3 linked regions of the Homo sapiens genome follow. The protein of the gene in region 1 purifies or fractionates together with the protein of each later gene. This does not show direct contact. Each region holds a gene or a part of one and is shown in the gene's direction. Other genes may lie near its edges. The genes, in order: NLRC5, IFIH1 and ATAD3A.

Region 1 (4,079 bases):
GGATGTCTGGGAGGTGAGTGGAAGGCCTTCCTAGCAGGCACATACTGGAACATAATCAATCCCTCCCATGCATACAGCTCACACCCACATTCTTATCCATTCCCACCATGCCCCTCAGTGGCCTGGGGAGACTAGGAATACCCCACTTGACAGATAAGGAAGCTGAGGCCAGGGGAGGTCAAGGCATTTGTCTGAGGTTGCACAACCAGGAGTGGTGAAGCTGGGAGTCACACACAAGGAATCACTGCAAAGTCTGTGTCCTTCCCACTCTGAGTAGGACTTGAACCAGGGATGTCCGATGCTGATGCTTGTGTCCTGACCACTACCTTGCAGCGTCCTCACCCACACCCACCCCAGGCCTGGGAGGCAGGGGAGCACCAGCGGTCTGGGAGTGAAAGTTGCTTCCCTGTGGGATGTCTGGGAGGTGGGTAGAAGGCCTTCCTAGCAGGCACAGCTGCCCACCGGATGAGTATGTCCAGGGGGAGAGGAGCCCCCTGTCCCAGGATGTGGGCAAAAACCTGGAGAAGCTGAAGCTGGACTTTGAGGATGGCCCCTGACTCCATCCTGGGACAGCCACCTCCCCTTCCTTCTGCCCCCTCCAGTCCCTCCTCTCCTTCCCTGCTCTCCCTCCTACCTCTTTCCATCTCCCCCTTTCTGCCTGTGATTCCTCCTGTGACTGGGGCAAGATCCTTCACCTCTGTCCTCCCTGAGCCTCAGTGGCTCACCTGGAACATAGGGTGATGCCTGCAGAAGTATTTTAGGGTTACTTTATGAGATAAATTGGTAGACTGTTTTTCCCGGGTCAGCCAGCCAGGGGTTCGGTGAATAGGAGCGAACGCTGCTGCCATTCCCTTCTCCCCTAGTTCATCCTGGAGGCTCTCCGCTCTCCCCCTGGTTCTAAGTCCCCTCCTCCTGCACCGTATCCCCCCTCCCATCCAACCCAGTCCCCACTGAGGCACTGAGACAGGGTCTTGGCCCAGGGTCCCCACCCACCTGAGCTCCGCATGTGAGCCGACCTTCACCCGCCTGCCTCAGTTTCCCGTCCACGAAAGGGGTGAGCGCCCCCACGTCTCCTGGGACTGTCCTTGGGTCCGATGCGGGGCTGTGGGGAGGTGCCAGGGTGTGGGCGCAGCAGGGAGCGGGTGTGTTAGGCCCCCGCCCATCCCGCGCCCGAGCCCCATCTGGCTCGGGCTGGCACCTCGAATCCACGTGATTTCTCGGCAGCAGCCGCCAGTTCCATGCACTGGCGGAGCAGCTCTAGGCGGCGGCTTCTACTTTCAGTTTCGTGCAGAGCGCGGAGGAGCCGCGAGCGCTGAGGGTGAGTGCCGGGAGCTCTGAGGGTGAGTGCCGGGCGTGCCGCGGGGCTGCGGGACCCGGGCTGGGGCGAGCGGAAGGGAGAGGATCGGGGTTCGAATTCTGCACGGAGAGGGGTGGAGGGGATGTCAGAGGCCCTGGAGCGGGAGGTGCGGGTGGCCGGGTGGCTGGCCGATGGATAGCTGGGTAAGCGGACAGGGCGCCAGTGGCCCGGCAGCGCGCACAGCATGCGCCCCGGCAGTTTGGAGGAAGAGTTGCCGGCCCGCAGAGGATGGCAGATGAGGGTCGCCTGGATGGGGGGACACAGTAAGCGGCTGTGCTCCCCTCCCTGCGCAGCTCCTGTCACCTACCGGATCCACCCACTCTCTCTGTCTTTTACTTTGCAACTTTTCATTGATTTTAAAACAATTACGGAAGTTACACTGTTCATTGTACGCAATTTAGACTTTTTGGCCTAAACAACTTTTTATTGTGGAAAATTCCAAACATATACAATAGTAGAAGGAATAGAATTAGGTTGAGCCTTCTGCACCTGCGGGTTTTCATATAATGAAGCCCCACCTATCCACGTTCAGCTTGGACAGTCACGACCCCAAGGCCACCTACTCACGACCCCAAGGCCACCTAGGTAGCCCAATCTCCACCGCTGGTTATTTTGAAACAAATGGCAGACAGCATAGCATCTCAACTGAGGTATTTCAGAATGTACTAAAAGATAAGGCATCTTTTAAAAACAAAACCACAGTACCACCAGCATACTACAAACATTTTAATAGTTATTCCTTAATGTCAAATCTCCAGATTATTTCTAAGGAACATTTAACCTCATAAGTGATAGGTGAATACGTGGGTGTTGTTTTGTTACTTGCTTTCTGCATTCCCATGTGGTTTTCGGTCACTATTCTCACCCAGAAAGCCAGGACCTGAAACTGGCTGGGGTGATCATTCGAGGAGGTCGGAAGAGGCTCCTACCTTCAGTGCCGTTTGCGTCCATTTTATAAGTTGGAGTTCTTATGTTTCCTTTTTTAAAAGGTTGAAGTTTCTGCAGACCTAAAAAGCAGTTTGAAAACTGGCAGTTCCCAGCCTCTAAAACCCGGGGGTAGCAGGAGGCAGAGAGTACCCCGGGGCCAGATCCTGGAGCCTCATTGTCCCTTCAAATCACCTTCCGTTTCTCTAAGGGAGAAATAAACCTTGAAAAGCCATGGGCTTTTCAGATGTATCTAGATGTATCTGATGCTTTTCAGGTGTATCTAGACTCCCATCCAGCGTGCTTTCTGCAAAACTTACTGAACCATAGCCCAGAATGGCCATCCATGATGCCCACCCGCCTTGTCTCCTGAAGCACATTGCCAGGTGGACCTGCACATGGTGTGGACGGCAGACAGACTGGGGCTCTCAACAACTGGTATTTGCTGGATGACCATGAACTAACCATTCAATTTCTCGAAACTTTGGTTTCTCGTCTGTAAAATGAACATATGCAAATCTATCCTACAAAGTGTGTTTTGTGGATTGAATGAGATGATACACGCCCACCCAGTGCCTTGATCAACCTTAAAATGCTGCACAAGTGTGAGGGGAGATGGATCCTTGAAGAAGACAGACAAGCAGAGGGGAAAGATCTTGGAAGAGTTTCACAATATGCTGAACTTTATTCCTGGATCAGATACAGAGCTGTCCGGGTGTCCACAGGGCCGGGTCAGCCTCCTCAGACCCCAACACACATACCCTCTTCCCCTCTGAGGAAAATTCAGCAAAACTTCTTTTGCTGTTGTTGTTCTTTATTCCTTTTTTTTTTTTTTTTTTTTTTGACGAAGTCTCACTCTGTTGCTCAGGCTGGAGTGTAGTGGCACGATCTTGGCTCACTGCAACCTCCATCTCCTGGGTTCAAGCGATTCTCCTGCCTCAGCCTCCCGAGTAGCTGGGATTATAGGCGCCCGCCGCTACACCCAGCTAATTTTTGTATTTTTAGTAGAGATGGGGTTTCACTATGTTCGCCAGGCTGGTGTCAAACTCCCAACCTCAGATGATCCACCCGCCTCGGCCTCCTGTGGGATTATAGGCGTGAGCCATCTTGCCCGGACTCCTTTTTTTTTTTTTTTTTTTTTTTAATAGACATGAGGTCTCAAACTCCTGGCCTCAAGTGATCAGTCTGCCTCTGCCTCCCAAAGTGTTGAGATTATGGGCGTGAGCCACCACACCCAGCCATAACTTCTTAGCATGACTTTTCCCATTTGTTATGAGTTCAATTGTGCCTCCCCACAAAAGATATGCTGAAGGCCTAACCCTCGGCGCCTCCTAACGTGACCTTATTTGGAAATAGGGCTGTTGCAGATATAACTGGTGAAGATGAGGTCATACTGGAGTAGGATGGGCCTTGAATCCAATAGGACCGGTGTCCTTATAAGAGAGGAGATGGACACATGAAGACAGAGACATACGGGGATCAGACAATCATGGACGGAGGAGGAAGAGAGTGCGGCGATGCATCTAGGAGCCACAGGACACCTAGAATGGCCAGCAGCCGGTGGGAACCAGGAGAGGCAAGGACGGATCCTCTCCTCCAGCCTTCAGAGGGAGCCCGGCCCTGACCACACCTCGATCTCAGACTCTGACCTCCAGAACTGCGAGAGAAGAAATCTCAGTTGTTTTAATGTACGCAGCTTGTGGCACTTTGTGACAGCAGATACAGCAGTACTGTGACAACACTAGGAAACGAATACACCATCCCAGCATCTCTGCTCTGTTTTCCATACAGAATTGAA
Region 2 (3,727 bases), on another chromosome or scaffold:
TCTCTTTAGCTGTTGACCCTTAGTCAAAGATGGCAAGTCCTCTTTCTCCAGAATACATATAATGTGGTTTGGAGATAAAATTAAGTGAAGGTTTGGTATCTACATCAAGTTAAATAGATTTTAAAATGCTCAAGAAGTATACATATATATATATAAAATATACACATATTACATTAAATGCAACTGAAGTTTTCCTTCAATAATTTATATCTTAGGGTATTTGAAGGCCATCTTCATAAGTAAATATGTCTGCTTCACCGTAAAACAAAATCTAGTCATTTGAGCTTTATTCAGATAAATGACAGTTTATTAATTTATAAATATACAAATTGGGGATATGAATATTTACTATTTTATGGAATAAAAATGAGCATACTTTTCCTTGATCAGAAAGTCTTTTTTCTGTTCTTATCTATTCCTTTATAAAAAAAAGCAGTAGACTGTAAAATATTCTATTTTTTATTTCTATTATGCTAAAAGTTTTAGTTACATCCTGTTTTTCAGTACTTAGAATCCATGATTTGAATGATTCCTATCATGTAGTTCCAAATGCATTTTGTGTGCATCTGCTAAGTCCAAAGAGCTCTCCTTTATACTTGTATACTTACTATTAAAACACTTTTATTTATTTTGCTGGTAATGGTGACACATTCAAATTTGTTTGCCGATAGACTTGCATATGTATTCCCTTTGTACAGGATATTATTTTTTTAAATGAAATAGGTTTGAATCCTATTTCTACCTACCGGTACTTTGAATTAGACAAATTAGTAACTTCTCTAACTTTAATTTCTTCATCTGCAAAATGAACAAAATAATAACTACCCTGCTCTGAAATTTCAATTGGATTATATATGGCCTAGTAATGACTCCTGCTTTTACTCTTAAATACTAGCTTTCTCCTGCTCCTTTCTCTTCACCTTCATAACTCATGAAACTAAGTAACATAACCAGGGAGGCTTTTAAGTGCCAAATCCAAAGAAAAGAACCAAGTTAACTGGATTCAAAGCTACTTAAACTGATAATTTTGAAACCATTTGAGCATCTGCCATTTTCTCAAACTCAGCCTCACCATCTACCCTCCCAAAGGCTCCTCTTCCCCATTTACCTGTCTCTTTGTGAGTAATACCACCTCCTCCAAAGCATGCAGCCCCCACACCTAGGAGTTAGTTTTAATTCATCTACTTCCTTTATTTCCCTTATCTGGTCACAGGGACATAGGCTAATAGAGTTGAAAAGGGGCTTCGAGATTCAGCTTTCTTCCTTTGCAGAGTGGTTCTCTCACTTCTGCAGGGTAACTTCCTAATATCAAGGAGGTCCCCCTACTAACAAGACACTGACACTCTTAGAAAGCCCTATTTGTATTCATCCAAATCTGTTTCTCTGGAATCCCACAATCACCGGTTAGAGTTCCTTCCTCTGCAACCACACGAAGTCCTAATTCTCCAGCCTAATGACAGCCCTTCACATAGACAAGGCAGCATCATGTGGCTCCTAAGTTACTTTTTTTTGTTGTTCCTTGGAATAAATGTCCACAGTTCCTTTAACTGTTTTCCATATAACATGGTTTCTAAACCTGTCATCATTCCTAGTGCTCATACTCCTTCAGACATTTTTCTGGGACACTCTTAAATGCGGTGTCCAGAGTTGGGCAAAATACTACAGATAAGATCATACCAGTGCAGAGCGTAGGAGACATGAGATATGACACCCAGCTTATGACCGCATTTGCCTCTGGCATCCACAGACTTATCTGGACCTTGTCATAGAATCAAAATCCTCAGTTCCTTTTTATTTGAAAATCTCTTAAACTAGAACATTCTTAATTTATTTTTGTGCAGTCAGTTTCTGAGCCTAAATTCAAATACTTAGGTTTATTTCTTTAACTATTGATCTTTTCAAGTCTCATATTTTTGTATGTGTCTGATGCATCTTCCTTTCTATAATATTCCCTTCTCTTCTCAATGCTATATTCTAGCCAGGAATCTTTCATTGCATTGGATCTACATGATTCTTCGGAATGCACATTTATGGCTATGTTTAAATATTAATTTATCCTCATTAATTATTCACATTCACTGCATTGTTGTGTGGACACCTGGGGACTTGACTCTAATTCCTTATTGCTTTTCTATTGTTTTTCTCCTTAGAATTACTAGAAATCCCTCCACTAATTCTTCCATCTATGTCATAATTGTTTACTATACCATCTTTTTGAATTTTAAATTAATTTCAGTTTTAATTCTTTTTGATTGAGTCAGAACACCTCTGGCCCAGTAAGTCTAAGTAACCTGAATCTTGTGTTTGGCCCAACAACAAGGTATTGTTACCCTTGATCTAGAAAAAAGAAATCCTGTTCTCTAACACCATTTACTTTCATCTCCCTTCCTCCGTCCTTTCCAAAGTTATAGCCTTCGAATGCAGAGAGAAATGAAAACACCACCTGTGTTCCCAGACTTTCCATTTCCTATCTAGGGCTTCAACATCATGAGAGATAAATCCCAGGTTCCTTCAGATGCTGCAATGCAGCCCCATATGATTCAGCAGAAGTGGGTAGCAGTTGGGTTTGATTAGTCTTGGCAGGCACTCTGTCACATCTCAAGAAAAGGCTCCAAGAGGACCACACACCTCCCAATTAGCCATGTCAGACTTGCATCTGGCTTTCTCTGTGTCCTTCAGTAGGAAGTCAACACCACCCAGAGCGAGTATCAGGATTTCCAGCATCTGCTATCTCCTGTGACAACTTCTTTTTGTTCTGTACATCAGAAGGTGCGGCTTCTTTTGAAGATTTTTGACTCACCTTTTATGGGCAGAATTTTGTGGTGCAATGTCACTCCATAATACAGAGATTCTTAATTAAATCATTCAGCATGAGTGTATTTAAAGACAAATCAAATGTAGATCTTGTCCTCACGAAATATACAGTCTAGAAGAAAGATGAGAGATATATGTTGATAATATGATAATTAATATTTTATTGCACTTTATAAAGCACTCTCAGATATATTATCTCATTAAATCTACACAGCAACCCCATAAGGTAGTCTTTATTATTCTCATTTTTTCCCATCAGAAAACTGAAGTTTCAAGACTTTAATTGGCAATTCAGGGATCATCCAGCCAAGAAACAGCAGAAATGAGACACGAACTTTTATCTTCTGAGTCCACTGGTCTTCCTTTGCCACTGCACCCTCCTTCTAGAATAAAAGGATTGGTGAAATATCGTGGAAGTTTTAGTACTGACAATACAGCATCCTCTATTTCATTTAATTTTCACAACCCTATAATAGGTTAACATTATCCTCATTTTATTAATCTGGAAATTGAGAGCATTAAGATGATTGAGACCTTGTCCAAGGTACAAAGAAGTAAGTGGCTGGAGTAGCTGTTTTCAGGGCTTTCTTCCCTCTGCATCATGCTGTCTCTTTCCACTAAACTTAATTTCCATTCTTTTCCTCAGAAGCCTTCTGTCTTGCATAAATGAAATGGAAAGAATACTTCTAGAAAATGATTCAAGAACGGCTTTGTGGAAGAGAGAGAGAAGAGCAGAGCTGTGACTCTCAAATTTTAAAGGCTTAAATGTCATTAAAGTGAAGGTTTCAAGCCTCTGCCCCCCAGAGATTGTCCCTAGATTCAGTAATTCTTGAGTGGGACTTAGGAGTCTGCATTTTCTAAACTTCTCAAGCGTGTTTGTAACAGGTAGATTAGAGAGACTTTACTTTGAAAA
Region 3 (3,239 bases), on another chromosome or scaffold:
AGATGAGAGGGTCATGTAGTTTCCTTCCTCCACTCGGCTAATATTGATTGATTTTTGTATGTTGAACATTTTTTATGTGGAACATTGATTGATTTTTGTACGTTGAACTATCCTTGCATTCCAGGAATAAATCCTGCTTGGTCAGGGTGTATAATTTTTTTATTATACTCCTGAATTGGTTTTGCTGGCATTTTGTTGAGGACTTTTCCAACGATGCTTATCAGGGATATTGGCATGTCATTTTTCTTGTGGTGTCTTTGTCTGGCTTTGATATGAGGGTAATGCTGGCCTCTTAGGATGAGTGAGGAAATGTTCTTCAATTTGTCCAAGAGTTTGAGGAGTGATACTGATTCTTCTTAATGTTTTGTGAATTCACATGTGAAGACATCAGGTCCAGGTCTTGTCTTTCAACTTTTATAGTTTGAAGATTTTAGGTTCCCAGAAAAGTTGCAAGAGTAGCACAGAGACTTCCTGGGCCTGGGACCTTGCCACGTGGTGAACATCATGTGTCACTGTTGGACCCACCTGTGACTGGGTTTTGCCCCAGAATCCCACCCAGGACGCCACGTGACATTTAGCTGTCACTTCTGGTGGGCTCCTGCCAGGTCCCGTGCTTCCTGGAGGGGTGGCCCCGTGAGCATCTGCATAGCCCCTTTCCTCTGCTGGGCCCTGGGTGGGGTGCAGCCACTCGGGTGGACCCTGAGGGTCCCTGCACCTGTTTGCCCTCTCTTGGGTGCGCTCAAGACCAAAAATGATGTTGAGCAGTCCTGGGCCCCGGACCCACAGTGGTGGTGCGGCTCTGGTCAGTGTCTCCTGCGCTCCCAGGCCCCTGACCCACAGTGGCGGTGCGGCTCTGGTCAGTGTCTCCTGCACTCCGGGGCCCCTGACCCACAGTGGCGGTGCGGCTCCGGTCAGTGTCTCCTGCGCTCCCGGGCCCCCGACCCACAGTGGTGGTCCGGCTCCGGTCAGTGTCTCCCCACACAGTGGCTCTTGGTGAGGGGTGGGCGCTTGCAGAGGGGACGGGCACCACGTGGTCATCCCCATGGCAGGTTCCGTCGTGGCGACGGTGTTGTGGGAGGATGGTGTGCTGCTGCCCCTGCACCCCGTGAGATGAATCCTGCCTCTGGGAGGTACAGCTGGGACGGGGCGAGGGACCCACTCAGCTGTCCAGGAAGGGTCCCCTGCCCTGTGCTTCCTCCAGGTGTCCTGGTGCGCTCCTGAGCACGGTGCCCAGTGGGGGTCCCCACACCCTGACCCTGACCCTGACCCACGGGTGCCTCCCCTTGGGGACTCCACGCCCTTCGCTGGCATTGGGATGGAGAGTGACCCGTTCATTGCAGAAGGGCTGGACCTGAGGCTGCCTGAAGCCACACCAAGGGCCACAGCCCCAGCAGCTCCAGCCTTCACGTGCCAGATGCCAAGCCCTGTGCTCAGGAGGACAGGGAGGTGGGGGCAGAGGTGGCCTTGGTGCCACCACTCATGTGCCTCAAGGTGGGCAGTGGCTGCCTCTGCCCTGGAGGCCTGTGAGGGTCAGGGTCTGAGGGTCTGAGGTGCACTATGACCCGGGGGCACTGCCTGGCCACGGCTGAGACTCGCAGAGGGTCTGCAGTTCCCACCTGCCTCTCGGAAGCTGCCCTGGGTCGGCGGTCAGTGAGGCTCCGCCTTGGGCTTTCTATTATTAGAAAGTCATTGAGCAACAGCAGTGCTGAGGACGCAGGCAGGGCTGTGGGCACTGCAGGGGCTGCTCCCGGTGTCCACACACGTGCTGGGCTCTGCCGAGGTGCGGGAAGCCTGTGTTTCACGCTCAGGCCATCCTGGAGCCCCTGGTTTGGTCCCTCCCCACCTCGGGGCCCTGGCGTGCATTTGGGGTGGGGGGTTCCCATGGCGGCCTCCCTCAGCTGCCTCTCTCCCCACTAGGCCACGGCGTATGCCTCCGAGGACGGGGTCCTGACCGAGGCCATGATGGACACCCGCGTGCAAGATGCTGTCCAGCAGCACCAGCAGAAGATGTGCTGGCTGAAGGCGGAAGGGCCTGGGCGTGGGGACGAGCCCTCCCCATCCTGAGTCCACAGGGAGATCCACAGCTCACGGAGCCTGGCCGCGGACCCCTCCCACCCCTGCCTTGCCGGCCCCTGCACATTTAGGATATGCTCCTGGGTGGGGACTGGGCTGTGCCCAGGGCCTCTGTCCCCCAGGATGTCTTGTGGTGCGGGTCGGCCGTTCTGCCCCCCAGGGCACCCCCTGTTGTAGGCACTGGCTAGGGAGGGGCAGGCCTCCTTCCTGCCCCTCGAGACACTCTTGGGAGATGCATTTTCCGTCTGGCTCACAGGGGGAGGGTGAGGCTTTGCACCCCAGCCCCTGCCCAGGCCACTGTGAGGGTGGGTGCTGGCTGAGCCCCCGGGGCAGCAGGAGCCAGGCAGGTGATGTCTTTGTTCTCGGCTCCCACAGCAGAGCCAGGTGAGGGGGCGCCTGCCAGGGCCAGACCCAGGTGGGGCAGCCTGAACCCTGCTTCCCCCTGTGGCCGGCATGCCCCGATCTTTCACACACTGGTGACCCTGAGAGAGGAGGGAGGAGGGAACCTGGCGGGGGTGTCTGAGGCCGCACTGTCAGCTGGCCGGTCCAAGCCTGTGGCTGGAGCTGGGGTCTGTTTACCTAATAAAGTCCCACAGGTGCCTCATTGCCCTGTCTGTCTCTTGGCTGGCACGGGGTGGGGTTTTGGGGGCCTCCTAGCGTCCCCCTGGGGTCAAAGGTGACAGAAGAGGCGGAGGCTGGCGCTTTCTGGAGAATTTACTGACCACAGAGGGGTGGGCTTCACATGAGTGCCCGCCACTGCGGGGCCAGGGGCCTGAATGCTGCCTGGGCCCAGCCACCTGCACCCCACCCTGTGGCTGTGCACACGCGGGTGCTCCCCTCGCCCCCCTCCCCTCCGCCCAAGCTGGCTGGGGCCAGACAGACGGTGGACGCAGCGCACGGGAAACAGCGCCTTCAAACAGATGCTGGCCCGGGCCGCGCGCCTCGCCGCCCCTGCCCCCACCTGCCCCCCAGGACCCTCCCTGCCCCCCAGGACCCTCCCTGCCCCCCAGCACCGCTGGGGATGAGTCCGCCCTTGTGTCCTGCCCCCCAACTGCAGGGTCTCCCCTAACCCAACCCCCACCCTAGCCCACACCCCAACCCCCTTTATAAAAAGAAGAGACAGCACCTTCCACTGGACTCTCCCGGCCGGCCACAGCCCCGGACAA

Evidence for each region.
Region 2: the proteins of NLRC5 (region 1) and IFIH1 purify together in Homo sapiens (affinity purification with western blotting, with the first as the bait; one study listed by BioGRID). This does not show direct contact.
Region 3: the proteins of NLRC5 (region 1) and ATAD3A purify together in Homo sapiens (affinity purification with mass spectrometry, with the first as the bait; one study listed by BioGRID). This does not show direct contact.

What each region holds. Positions count from the first base shown.
Region 1 is NC_000016.10:56,988,278-56,992,356, forward strand, and holds the start of NLRC5 (protein NLRC5), read left to right. Parts: upstream 1-1,279; 5' UTR 1,280-1,340; intron 1,341-4,079.
Region 2 is NC_000002.12:162,283,990-162,287,716, reverse strand, and holds part of IFIH1 (interferon-induced helicase C domain-containing protein 1), read left to right. Parts: intron 1-3,727.
Region 3 is NC_000001.11:1,532,009-1,535,247, forward strand, and holds the end of ATAD3A (ATPase family AAA domain-containing protein 3A), read left to right. Parts: intron 1-1,917; coding exon 1,918-2,064; 3' UTR 2,065-2,677; downstream 2,678-3,239. UniProt on the Homo sapiens protein: Essential for mitochondrial network organization, mitochondrial metabolism and cell growth at organism and cellular level. May play an important role in mitochondrial protein synthesis. May also participate in mitochondrial DNA replication.